Linked DNA regions of Homo sapiens. The protein of the gene in region 1 purifies or fractionates together with the protein of each later gene. This does not show direct contact. Each region holds a gene or a part of one and is shown on either strand. Other genes may lie near its edges.

Evidence for each region. Proteins that work in one complex are often made in the same cells at the same time.
Region 2: the proteins of IFT140 (region 1) and TULP3 purify together in Homo sapiens (affinity purification with mass spectrometry; 6 studies listed by BioGRID and IntAct, with this or other methods). This does not show direct contact.

The regions. Positions count from the first base shown.
Region 1 is NC_000016.10:1,602,048-1,609,072, reverse strand, and holds part of IFT140 (intraflagellar transport protein 140 homolog), read left to right. Parts: intron 1-876; exon of another isoform or gene 877-1,014; intron 1,015-1,775; 5' UTR 1,776-1,806; coding exon 1,807-1,953; intron 1,954-4,590; exon of another isoform or gene 4,591-4,658; intron 4,659-6,481; coding exon 6,482-6,703; intron 6,704-7,025. UniProt on the Homo sapiens protein: Component of the IFT complex A (IFT-A), a complex required for retrograde ciliary transport and entry into cilia of G protein-coupled receptors (GPCRs).
Region 2 is NC_000012.12:2,893,876-2,900,900, forward strand, and holds part of TULP3 (tubby-related protein 3), read left to right. Parts: intron 1-7,025. UniProt on the Homo sapiens protein: Negative regulator of the Shh signaling transduction pathway: recruited to primary cilia via association with the IFT complex A (IFT-A) and is required for recruitment of G protein-coupled receptor GPR161 to cilia, a promoter of PKA-dependent basal repression machinery in Shh signaling.

The sequences.
Region 1 (7,025 bases):
AGCGATTCTCATGTCTCAGCCTCCTGAGTAGCTGGGATTACAGGCAGGCACCACCACACCCAGCTAATTTTTGTATTTTTTAGTAGAGAAGAGGTTTCATCATGTTGTCCAGGATGGTCTCGATCTTCTGACCTTGTGATCCACCCGCCTCGGCCTCCCAAAGTGCTGGGATTACAGGCATGAGCCACCATGCCTGGCCAAAACTCATTTTAAGAGGTAATCCCAGCTACTTGGGAGACTGAGGCAGGAGGATCACTTGAGCCCAGGAGTTCAAGGCTACAGTGAGCCATGATCACACCACTGCTCTCCAGCCTGGGGGCCCTGTCTCTAAACAATATATATTTTTTAATTTAAAGGTTTCTTTTGCTATTTTAAATTGCCCAGGTTTTGATCTGGAGTGTTTGTTTGTTGTTCGGGTTTCTTTTTTTTTTTTTTTTTTTTGAGGCGGAGTCCTATTCTGTTGCCAGGCTGGAGTACAGTGGCGCGATCTCAGCTTACCGCAACCTCTGCCTCCCAGGTTCAAGTGATTCTCCTGTCTTAGGCTCCGGAGTAGCTGGAATTACAGGTGCCTGCCACCACACCTGGATAACCTTTTGTATTTTTAGTAGAGGCGGGTGGCGTTCGCCATTTTGCCCAGGCTGGTCTCGAACTCCTAAGCTCAGGCAATCTGCCCACCTCGGCCTCCCAAATTGCTAGGATTACAGGCATGAGCCTGTATAATTTTAAATGGTGGCAAACCCGGCTACAAGTATGTTCTTCTCTGCCAGTTAACTTCCCCAAATTGACTGAGGTGTAAAAAAGTGAGCAGTAACCAGACCGTCACTTTATTTATCACCCTAACCCGCCTGAAAAGGGACGATGTGTATATCTTTTCCAGATCTGAAAGGAAGAATGAAAGAGAGAGATTAAGTTCACGTAAGTGATCAAGCTCAACTTCTCACAGCTGCTGCGGCTGTGCATTCTTGACTCTCTAATAGAGGAAGACTTCTGTCTTCTACCACCTGTGAGTCAGAGGTAAAAGACAGTCTTTGATTTTATGCTTTATTGGAAATTCAGTACTGGTTTTTTTTCTGTACCAGTACTCTTTTCTGGAGCAGTTTGCATTTATTTTGTTTGAAAATGTTGTTTAAAAGGCAGTGGTGGCCCACGGCTGTAATCCCAGCACTTTGGGAGGCCAAGGCAGGAGGATTACCTGAGCCAGGGGTTCAAGACCAGCCTGGGCAACATAGTAAAACCTTGTGTCTACACAAATTACTTAAAAATTAGCTGGGCATGGTAGTGCATGTCTGTAGTCCCAGCTACTTGAGAGGCTGAGGTGGGAGGATCACTTGAGCCCAGGAGTTTGAGGCTGCAGTGAGCCGTGATCACACCACTGCACTCCAGCCTGGGTGACAGAGCAAGACTTGGTCTAAAAAGTTAAAGGGAACTACAGAAATAGAACTTGTCCTTATTGTGACTGGAATGAAAGTTACTGAGGATTGCGTGTGTAGTTAGGCTGCAGGCCTTTTCTTTCTTTCCTCCTTTGATGGCCATGAGTTGTATTCGTTTCTGTCACAGCCTGGGTGATTCCGGGTCTAACTGCTTCTCTTCTGCATGTCTCCCTGTTGGAGATCTCCTCGCATCAGGTTGCCTGCTCAGTCCGCAAGGCATTTTCAAGTTGCCGATGGTCTTCCGATGGTGGCTTTGGGATGCTTCCTTTTCGTCATTCCATGTACAGTCATATTGTTTGTTTTATTTAAAACTGATTGGACTTGGTCATTTTTTTTTCCCTGCAGGTTTCAGCGCTGAGGAGGCCTGAGTTCCGTCATGGCCCTCTATTATGACCACCAGATAGAAGCCCCGGATGCAGCAGGGTCACCCTCATTTATCAGCTGGCACCCTGTCCATCCATTCTTGGCAGTTGCTTACATCAGCACAACCTCAACAGGCAGCGTGGATATTTACCTGGAGCAAGTGAGTGCTCAGAAGCAAGGAGCCTGACTGTGGTAGCTTCTGGCTCATGTTGTTTGTGTTGCTGTTGTCCTTGTGTGTGTGCACATGTGTGTGTGTGCCTATGGGTGTGTGTGTGTATACATGCATCTGTGTGTGCGTGTATGTGTATTGGTGTGTGTATGCGCATATGTATGTCTGCATCTGTGTGTGTGTGCGCACACGTGGGTGTGTGCATATGGGTGTGTGTGTGCATCTGTATGCTTGTATGTGGGGGGGTGTATGCGTGTGTGTGCACACGTGTGTGTGTGTGCGTGTGGTGCGTGTGTGTATTTTCAAACGAACTCTACTCTAGCTTATTCATGAAGAAAACGACATCTATGAGGCCAGGCGCAGTGGCTCACGCCTGTAATCCCAGCACTTTGGGAGGCCGAGGTGGGTGGATCACTTGAGGTTAGGGGTTCGAGACCAGCCTGATCAACATGGAGAAACCCCATCTCTACTAAAAATACAAAATTAGCCGGGCATGGTGGCTCATGCTTGTAATCCCAGCTACTCGGGAGGCTGAGGCAGGAGAATCGCTTGAACCCAGGAGGCAGGGGTTGCAGTGAGCGGCGATCACGCCATTGCGCTCCAGCCTGGGCAACAAAAGCAAAACTCTGTCTCAGAAAAGAAAAAAAAGAAAACGACATCCGTCATCAGTTTTCACAGAGGCCAAATCCCAGGGTTATAAAAGCCCTAGTATGTGGGCAGTTCTTTCACGCTGGCTATTTTGGTGGCTTGGGGACATGTTTAGGAATCCTTCATGCTTATCAGCATTAAGCCACTATCAGTTCACAGTCATCACCAGAAATGTCCCCACAGTGCTGTTTGTGGATCCTGAGGCATCTTCCTCTGTCAGTGCCCTCCTGCACGCTCCATAGGGGCCATTTGGAACTCTAATCATTTCCACAAACTGGGTGGCTTTAAACAACAGGAAGGTATTCTGGCAGCTCTGGAGGCGAGAACTCCAAAATCAGGTGTCAGCAGGGCCCGCTGGCTCTGAAGGCTGAGGGGAGTGTCTGCCCCGAGCTGCTGTCCTGCTCCTGCTGTTCCCAGCAAGCCTTGGTGCTCCCTGGCTGGCAGATGCGCTGCTCCAGCCCTGCCTCTGGTGTCATCCGGCCTTCCCTTCTGTATGTCTGCGTCTCTTCTCCTCTTCCTAAAAGGACATCAGGCATATGTAACTAGGGCCTGCTCTAATGACCTCACCTGAGCTTACCCACATCTGCAAAGACCCTGTTTCCAAAGGACGCCATGTCACAAGGACCAGGGATAGGACTTCCACATATCTTTGTGGGGACACAATTCACCCCCTAACAGAAACGTTCCCCAAGCTCCTCAGACTTCGATAATCACCCTCTCGGTGCCCAGTGCACCTCATATTCCATAAAGAAAATGAGGTGCCAGGTGCGGTGGCTCACGCCTGTAATCCCAACACTTTGGGAGGCCGGGGTGGGTGGATCATGAGGTCAGGAGATCAAGACCATCCTGGCTAACACGGTGAAACCCCGTCTCCACTAAAAATACAAGAATTAGCCGGGCGTGGTGGCGGGCACCTGTAGTCCCAGCTACTCAGGAGGCTGAGGCAGGAGAATGGCATGAACCCAGGAGGCAGAGCTTGCTGTGAGCCGAGATCACGCCACTGCACTCCAGCCTGGGCAACAGAGTGAGACTCCATCTCAAAAAATATAAATAAATAAGAAAATGAGGTTTCCTCCTCTACTCACTCTTCAGCCCTCTGCAGGCTCCCTATTGCCACCACAACTTCACCCAAGCAGCGACAGTCATCAGTTGCTTCTAGGTGTCACCCCCTGAGTGTTTTGGGGTCCTTGTCTGTACCACACTCCTGTGAAGTCCTCTGGGAAACATGCCCGAGAGCGCAGGGGTAGGGCGTTCCCTGCCCGGCCTCCATGGCTTTGCCAGCTCTTCCTCCATTTCCAGCTTGTGAGCACCATGGCCTTCTGCAGAGCTTGGTCAGGGCTCCTCTCCATTTCTTCCTTCTCCTGTGATCTGAGCATCCCCAGTGGCTTGCAGACATACATCTCCTGCCTAGAAGTTCCCTCTGAGCTGTAAGCTTAGGGACCCAGCTGCCTTCCTGACATCTCTAGGGTGTTTCAAGGAGACCTCAGACTGTACAAAACTGAACTGAAATTGTCCCCCACCCTTCCCCTGCCTCATATCTCCTGCTCACTGAGATGGGCACCTCCCATCTCAATGAAAGTCACCCCCTTTATCCTGGTTTCTAGAACAAGAACCTGGGCATGACTGTTGACATTTCCCACTCCCCTACCTTGTAATCCATCACTAGATCCTCCCAGTTTCTCCCCCGGAACCTCTGGCGAGTCTGCTGCTGCTTGCCCTTCCAACCGCCCTTCCCTCCTCCAGGTTCCCATCCCCCTCTCCTGGACACCAGTACAGCTTCCTACTGTGGCAGCTGTGCCCTCACAGGCCTCCTCTACTTTACACGGCAACCAGGCCTGGCCTGTCTTGGCATCACAGATGGAATCACTCCCTGCTCCCACCTCCCCGGCCCTGTGCTGCTCTTTGGGTGAACATGGAGTCCCTGATGTGGCCCCTAGCGCCTCCCAGGTCTGGCTCTGTCACCTGTCACATCAGGCTCACCTTCCTTGATGCTGACACAGCCTTGCACAGCCTTCCTCGGCCTTCCAGCCCTGCACATGCTGTGCCACCTGCAAAGAAGACACTCCTTCATCCATTTTTGTAATTAATGCATTAATCCTTCAGGTGAAAGTGGCTAAGTGGCCCCTTAGGAACTGCTCCCCCCTCCACACACACACACACACACACACACACACACACACACACACACGCCCTTGCAGCGCGATGCAGCGCTGGTCAGCGGCTCCCCTGTTGCCAGCAGGCTCCTCCATATACTGGCAGCTTTGCGAAGGCCGTGCCAGACTTAGGGCTCAGTCCAGCCCCAGCACCAACCCCACTTTTGCCCATTTTTTTGGGTAGATTCTCCCTTGCAGGAGCCTATAACATATATGGTAAATGGGATATTTTTTAAAATAAATATTATTAAATTCCAAAGTTATAGCAATTTTAGGTAAAATTTTTAAATTTAGAAGATCTAAAGCATACTATTATAAAACTAGTCAATAGCATATTTCTGTGTTTCCAGTTGGCACAAGGAAAACTTCAGGATTTCAAAATAGTGATCTATTGGACAATGATGAGATCACAGAAGATGGCTCCTAAGCCCAGTGGAACAACTGGGGGCAAACCAAGTTAATCTCTGAAAACGCACTTATATCTTCCCCAAAGCTGCTGCTTTAGAAAATTTTAGAAAACACAGCACATGGCCGGGCACGGTGGCTCACGCCTGTAATCCCTGCACTTTGGGAGGCCGAGGCGGGCAGATCATGAAGTCAGGAGTTTGAGACCAGCCTGGCCAATATGATGAAACACTGTCTCTACTAAAAATACAAAAATTAGCTGGGCTTGGTGGCGCGCCTGTAGTCTCAGCTACTTGGGAGGCTGAGGCAGGAGAATCGCTTGAACCTTGGAGGCGGAGGTTGCGGTGAGCTCAGATCATGCCACTGCAGCACTCCAGCCTGGGCTACAGAGTGAGAATCCATCTCAGAAAAAAAAAAAGAGGAAACGCAGCACATATCTCACAAGCTGTCATTAGTGACATCACCACATCACACAGCCTTTGAAAAGCTCCACTGTAGACGCGTGAAAGAAGGAGAGTATGAATGGCACTAACCTGTCACTATTATTCTGAAAATAATTTTCACCTTTCAGATCCCTGAAAGGGTCCTGGGGTCTCTGGACAACACTTTGAGATCCCTGGGGCCACAAACCTCACCTGCTGGCTCGCTGGTGGTTTTTGTAGATAAGGTTTTAGGGAACCCAGCCACGCACTAAAATGCGTGCCAGCCATCCAGCAGCCATGGGGAGGAGGTGGCACATCATGACAAGGTGGCACTCCATGAGAAGCTGGTCGGGGTTGCCAGCTGAGCACAAGTTACCTTCTGCTTTGGTAGCTCAGCTAGGGGCAAGGTTGGTGCGTTTTTATGAAAAATTAAAGAGTCTACTGAGAACATTGCCCCATTGCCTTAATAGCTTTTGTACCTTGTCGCCAATGTGGAGTCCACAGATCACACAGAAGTTTTGTTTGTTTGTTTGTTTGTTTTTGGAGACAGAGTCTTGCTCTGTCGCCCAGGCTGGAGTGCAGTGGTGCGATCTGGGCTCGCTGCAACCTCTGCCTCCTGGGTTCAAGCAATTCTCCTGCCTTAGCCTCCCGAGTAGCTGGGACTACAGACGCCCGCCATCACACCTGGCTAATTTTTGTATTTTTAGTAGAGACGGAGTTTCACCAAATTGGCCCAGCTGGTCTCGAACTCCTGACTTTGTGATCCACCCACCTCAGCCTCCCAAAGTGCTGTAATTACAGGAGTGAGCCGCCGTGCCCGGCCTAGACAGAAGTTCTTAAAAGTAGCTGTCCCTCTCTGAACTGTGGGAATTTGCCTCTCATCCAATGCAGGGGGAGTGCGTGCCAGATACACACGTCGAGAGGCCGTTCCGGGTTGCTTCCCTGTGCTGGCACCCGACGCGGCTGGTGCTGGCTGTGGGCTGGGAGACTGGAGAAGTGACGGTGTTTAACAAGCAGGACAAGGAGCAGCACACGATGCCCCTGACACACACAGCCGACATCACCGTGCTCCGTTGGAGCCCCAGTGGAAACTGCCTGCTGTCTGGGGACAGGGTGAGTCAACACGCGCAAGACGCTGTTTTCAGACCTTGACCCTTTCTGACCATGCTCGAGAGTATGAAAGATCAAAATATGGGAACCGTGCTGTTGCCAAATTCAGTTGATCTTGTCAGATGCAATTGTAGATTTTGTTTTATATTGGAAGCAAGGCTTGAAAATTTGCCACTCTGTGGCAAAGGTGTGTCTGCACCTTTATAAATGAACTTTGCTGGGAAACTGCATTCGTAAAGATACGTGCCCAGATACTGTCACTTTTCCCTAGGCCTGTTTGTCTAGCTCAGGGCTTCTTAACCAGGGTTGGTTCTGCCCCCCAGGG
Region 2 (7,025 bases), on another chromosome or scaffold:
TCAAGTGATCCTCCTGCCTCAGCCTCCCAAAGTGCTGGGATTACAGGTGTGAGCGACCAGGCTTGGCCTATTTTCTTATATCAGAAATGTTTAGTGAAAATTGGAGGTGAAATTTGAAACAACACTCAGGACCTTTGTTGAGGCTAGGCATTTTATAATATAGATTCCCTGGAGATGACGGGGGTTGGCTGGTGCTGGAACTTGAGCCCTATCTGGCCTTTTGTAAGTGATAGAGAATTGAGAATTGAAGGCGTGCTTCCCACTGTGGTGTGACCTTGTGAGCTGGAGTCATCTAAGAAATCCCAGTCGGTGGTTTGTCCATATACCATGATTTCTCTTTAGAAATATAAACAGTAGGCTGGGCATGGTGGCTCACACTTGTAATCCCAGCACCATGGGAGGCCGAGATGGCGGGGGGGCGGGGCGGGGGGGGGGAAATCACCTGAGGTCACGAGTTCAAGACCAGCCTGACCAACATGGAGAAACCCTATCTCTACTAAAAATGCAAAACTTAGCCAGGCATGGTGGCAGGTGCCTATAATCTTAGCTACTCAGGAGCTGAGGCAGGAGAATCGCTTGAACCAGGGAGGTGGAGGTTGCAGTGAGCCAAGACTGTGCCACTGCACTCTAGCCTGGGTGACAGAGCAAGACTCCGTCTCAAAAACACACACACACACACACACACACACACGCACGCACACAAAAAAGAGATCTGTCAAGATAAAAAGCTCAATAATAGGCTAGGTGCAGTGGCTCATGCCTGTAATCCCAGCACTTTGGGAGGCGGAGGTGGGCAGATCACGAGGTCAGGAGTTCAAGACCAGCCCAACCAACATGGCGAAACCCTGTCTCTACTAAAAATACAAAAATTAGCCAGTTATGGTGGTGTGTGCGTATAGTCCCAGCTACTCCGGGAACTGAGGCAGAAGAATTGTTTGAACCTGGGAGGCGGAGGTTGCGGTGAGCCGAGATCACACCACTGCACTCCAGCCTGGGCGACAAGAGCAAAACTCCATTTGAAAAATAAAATAAAATGAAATAAAAATAAGAAATAGTGAAAATAAATAACATTCCCGAAGAGAGAAAATATAACCCCTGAGAAGGGAGAATTGGGCAAAAGTTAAAACGAACTTAAGTTCTGAGTAATGTCTGTTTGAATCTACAAGTAATAAATGCATTCTTTTAACTTCTGGATTAAATCATACATCTTAAATAGCCTTTTTGTTTAGTTCACTCAAAAGAATGCTTTTTGCTTTTGCTGTGTGGTACTTGCAAAATCAGGAGGGGTTTACTCTAAAATAGTTTTCCCTGCAGCATTCTTTGGGGCTATGGGAATGCTCAAATCAGCGGCCAGCCTTTGCTTCTCATTGCCTCCCTCTCCCCAGGCAGTTCTCCCTGCTCTGATTGTGTCTCTACTAAATGGGCCTCCTAGGAAATGGATGTTCATTCCCTGGCTTCAATTAAGTTAGCTCCAGATTGTGGCCGTCTTTCAAGTAGAGGACAGCTGAGCTTAGAATACTAACATTTCTCCCTAGATGAGGAAGGATAGATGTCAAAGGAATTCTTTTCTGACACTTCTCATATGACCTTTATGTGTCTTTTCTCAGAAGCAATATTTTGTTCAAGCCAGATGTGTTCTTGGTGTGTCAGTATGTGTAAAAACATGGCCTTCGAATATTGACATTTAGGATTTGGACAAGGTGAACCTATTTGTCAATTGAGTTAGGAAACATACTTTGTTAATAGCTCTTTCCACAATTATCTGAAATTGTTATCAGTTTGAACATGATGAAATCTGATGCCTCTTTCACTCTATACAGTTATTTGCCACTTAATGATGGGGATGCATTCTGAGAAATGTGTCATTAGTGGATTTTGTTGTGTGAACGTCATAGTGTACACAAACCTTGATGGGATATCCTACTACCTACCTAGGCCCTGTGGTACAGTCTGTTGCTCCTAGGCTACAAAGCTATACAGCCTGTTACTGTACTGAATATTGTAGGCAATTGGAACACACTGGTAAGTATTAGCATATCTAAACATAGCAAAGGTACAGTGAGAATACTTTTTTTTTTTTTTGAGACGGAGTCGCATCTTTGTTACTCAGGCTGGAGTGCAATGGCATGATCTCGGCTCACTGCAATCTCTGCCTCCCAGGTTCAAGTGATTCTCCTGCCTCAGCCTCCCAAGTAGTTGGGATTACAGGCGTGCACCACCATGCCCAGCTAATTTTGTATTTTTAGTAGAAACGGGGTTTTACCATGTTGGTCAAACTGGTCTTGAACTCCTGACCTCAAGTGATCCACCCGCCTCTGCCTCCCAAAGTGCTGGGATTACAGGCGTGAGCCACTGTGCCTGGCTGACAATGTGGTGTTATCATCTTAGGGGACCCCTGTTGTATATGCAGTATGGTTGACCTAAATGTCGTTATTCAGGGCACTCCTCCCCAGGGCTGCTTAAAAATCCATTCACTGGCTTGGAAGTTCTACCTAAAAATAGCAAGTCAGCTGGCATTTTTAATGAACATATTGAAATACCAGAGAATGAAATTCCTGTCTCTGCTGACCATTTTAATACACGTGTTCAGTCGTGTGGTTTAACACATTCAGGTAGATTGGGAGTGAGACTTGTGATTGAATTTGGGCTCTTTCGCTGATCAGCTGTTTGACCTTTAGAATATGAACTATAGTTGTAAGTTTAAAATTGCTTTCCTGTGATGTGTAGAAAATAAGGCTGTAACAAAGCAAGAAATATTTTTCAAATATGCTCCTGGAAAAATAAAATTATTGCTATTTAGCTTTGCAGGAAGAAACTTCAATAAATCTACAAGGTAGGTGCTATAATCTCATTTTACAGAGAGATATGAAACTCATATGAAAGGAGTTCACCTCCTTTCTCCCGAAATTCATTTAGAGCATCTATGAGTTTCATATCTGTCTGTAAAATGAGATTATAGTGCCTACTTTGTCAAGGTTATCGTGAAAATTATCACACATCATATGTGAAAAATAATATATATTTAATATAATTCCTGGCAGGCAGTATTAAATATTCACTAAGTAGAACTGTACTTAAGTGCAACTAGCAGAGTGACAACACATTTTAACAATGTTTCAATAACAATACAATTTTGGACTTTTAAATTTTTTTTTTGGAGTCTCGCTCTGTCGCCTAGGCTGGAGTGCAGTGGCAGGATCTCGGCTCATGGCAACCTCCACCTCCTGGGTTCAAGCAGTTCTCCCTGCCTCAGCCTCCTGAGTAGGTAGGATTACAGGTGCCTGCCACCACCCCTGGCTAATTTTTGTATTTTTAGTAGGGACAGGATTTCACCATGTTGGCCAGGCTGGTCTCGAACCCCTTACCTCAGGTGATGCACCTGCCTCGGCCTCCTAAAGTACTGGGATTACAGGCATGAGCCACTACGCCCAGCCTAAAGATTTTTTTAATACAGGGGAAATTATTAGAAATTTCTGGGTTTCCAACATTCGAAAGCTTTTGAAAGGTGATAAAGTATTATGATGAAATCATTAGTCTTCTCACTGAAGTGAAGATTAAGGTAACACATTCATTTGTAGTATTAAGAAGTATTGTAAAACAAAAATCTTCCCAGGCACAGTGGTTCAGGCCTATAATCCTAGCACTTAGGGAGGCTGAGGCAGGAGGAAGGAGATCACTTGAGGCCAGTAGCTCAAGACCAGCCTGGGCAACATAGTGAGACCCCCTGTCTGTCTGTTGGTCTGTCATGTTCGTTTGTTCTCTCTCTCAAGACATAGGGTCTTGCTGTATTGCCCAGGCTAGTCTTGAACTCGGGCCTCAAGTGATTCTCCCACCTCGGCCTCCCAAAATGCTGGAAAGGCATGAGCCACTCTGCCTGGCCCGAGACCCTGTCTCTTAAAAAAAAAAAAAAAAAAAATTCTAGGCCCAGTGCGGTGGCTCATGCCTGTAATCCCAGCACTTTGGGAGGGCAAGGCAGGCAGATCACCTGAGGTTAGGAGTTAGAGACCAGCCTGGGCAGCATGGTGAAACCCTGTCTCTACTAAAAATACAAAATTAGCCAGGTGTGGTGGCGCATGCCTGTGATCCCAGCTACTTGGGAGGCTGAGGCATGAGAATCACTTGAACATGGGAGGCAGAGGTTATAGTGAGCCAAGATCGCGCCATTGCACTCCAGCCTGGGCAACAAGAGCGGAAACTAGATCTCAAAAAAAAAAAAAAAAAAAGATATAATAGCAGTTGCAGTTTGAGTGCTTACTATGAGCCAAGTTTCATTTAATCTTCACAATAACCTTCTGAGTTAAGTGTCATTGTCCTCACTTTGTAAATTAGGAAACTTGAGGCTTTACTAGGTTAAGTTGTACTGGGAACTGTGCTGTAACCACATAGCACACGTCTCTAAATGGGGACTTACAATTAGTTTGAACTAATATAGGCCAAGCCAGGGGTCAGCAGACCTTTTTAATTATTTTTTTTCAGATGGGGTCTTGCTTTGTTGCCCAAGCTGGTCTTGAACTGCTGGACTTAAGCCATCTTCCCGCCTCAGCCTCCCTAGCAGCGGGGACTATAGGCATGCACCATCACCCCTGGCCAGTAGTCCTTTTCTGCGAAGGTCTTAACCAAACGTTTTTGGTTTTGTGGGCCATACAGTCTCTGTCCCAGTTGCTCATTACTCAGTTTTGCTGTTGTAGCACAAAAGCAGCCATAGATAATAGGTAAGTGAATGAATGTGTCTATTTCAATAAGACTTTATGGACACTGGAATTTGAAGACTTTTTTCTTTTTATTCATTACTTCCTGCACAGTGATAATTTCTTTTGGGCTGGGGGGACAGGTTCTCACTATGTGCCCAGGCTGAGTGCAGTGGTGCAGTCGTAGCCCACAACAGCCTTGAACTCCTGGGTTCAAGCAGTCCTCCTTCCTCTGCCTCCTGAGTAGCTGGGATTACAGGTGTGCACCACCACACCTGGCTAATTTTTAAATTTTTTGTAGAGACGGGTCTCACTATGTTGCCCAGGCTGGTCTCAAACTCCTGGCCTCAAGCAGTCTGCCCACATAGGCATCGCAAAGTGCTGGGATGACAGGCATGAGTCACTGCACCTGGTTGGAATTTGAATTTAATATAATTTTTACATGTCTCAAAATATTATTCTTCAGATATTTTTAACCTTTTAAAAATGTGAAATTCATAGGCTGGGCACAGTGGCTCACGCCTGTAATCCCAGCACTTTGAGAGGCTCATGCGGGTGGGTCACCTGAGGTCAGGAGTTAGAGACCAGCCTGACCAACATGGAGAAACCATGTATCTACTAAAAATACAAAATTAGCCGGGCATGGTGGCCCATGCCTGTAATCCCAGCTACTCGGGAGGCTGAGGCAGGAGAATCGCTTGAACCCAGGAGGCTGAGGTTGTGGTGAGCTGAGATCACGCCATTGCAATCCAGCCTGGGCAACAAGAGCGAAACGACGTCTCAAAAAAAAAAAAAAAAAAACAGCGAAATTCATTCTTAGCTCAAAGGCAGTACAAAAACTGACGGCAGGCCAGATTTGGCCCACACGCTATAGTTTGCAGCCCCTGTGCTAAATCATAAAAGTATTTTTTCCTGGAAGGTCATAGTTATTCATACTGTGAATATTATTTAAGAGAGCATTGAAGATTGTTTTTATATTAAAATGGAACCCGTTACCTTATGGAATAAAACCCAGAATTTAATTTTCAAGATAAAACTTGGAGGCGGGGGCCGGGCGTGGTGGCTCACGCCTGTAATCCCAGCACTTTGGGAGGCCAAGGTGGGCGGATCACGAGGTCAGAAGTTCGAGACCATCCTGGCTAACACAGTGAAACCCTGTCTCTACTAAAAATACAAAAAATTAGCCGGGTGTGGTGGCAGGTGCCTGTAGTCTTAGTTACTCGGGAGGCTGAGGCAGGAGAATGGCATGAACCCAGGAGGCGGAGCTTGCAGTGAGCAGAGCTCATGCCACTGCACTCCAGCCTGGGCGACAGAGCGAGACTCCGTCTCAAAAAAAAAACAAACAAAAAAAAAAACAAAAAAAACTTGGAGACGGCTGTGGTGGCTCACATCTGTAATCCCAGCACTTTGGGAGGTTGAGGCAGGCGCGTCACCTGAGATCACGAGTTCGAGACTAGCCTGGCCAATGTGTTGGAACCCCGTCTCTACTAAAAATACAAAAAAAATAAAAAATTAACCAGGCGTGGTCGCACTCCTGTGTTCCCAGCTACAGGGGAGGCTGAGGCAGGAGAATAGCTTGAACCTGGGAGGAAGAGGTTGTAGTGAGCCGAGATCGCGCCACTGTACTCCAGCCTAGCGACAGAGCAAGACTCTGTCTCAGAAACAAAAACAAAAAAACTTGGATTCTAAAGATACGTTGTTCTGTAGATGGTCTCTGGACCGTACTTTCCTCCTTTCTCCTCAATTTCATTTAGAGCATAAAAGCACTTTCTTAGGCTGTTTGAAGCACTTGGATTGGAAATGTTGCCTGCAGTAACCTGTATAAACATCAATATATCAATAACAGATTATTAGTGCAAAATTTAAATGTCCAAAAACTGAAAGGGAATAATGATCGGTGACTGGGTCTATGAAATTACAAAAGTAAAGCCTAAGGGAGATGGCAAGCTTTCCTATTCTGCTACCCTTGTCAGCTGATGTCTTGGTAGAATTAATAAAGTACTCTTTTTAAACTCAAAAACATCTGTTTTGAATAATACTTTTTTTTTTAACACCCTACCTTTGAGGTAACTATTGTTAATAGTTTGTGTATATCCTTCTGGAATTCTTCTATTCCTGTAGACCTTGCAGATACTTTTTTTTTTTCTACTTGCAGTTATTTTTATTTTTTGTTTTTTGAGAGTGTCTTGCTCTCTCACCCTGGCTGGAGTGTGGCGGTGTGACGATAGCTCAACCTCCTGGGCTCAAGCAATCCTCCCACCTCAGCCTCCCAAGTAGCTGGAACTATAGGCATGCGCAACCAAGCCGAAATACTTTTTTTTTTTTTTTTTTTGTAGA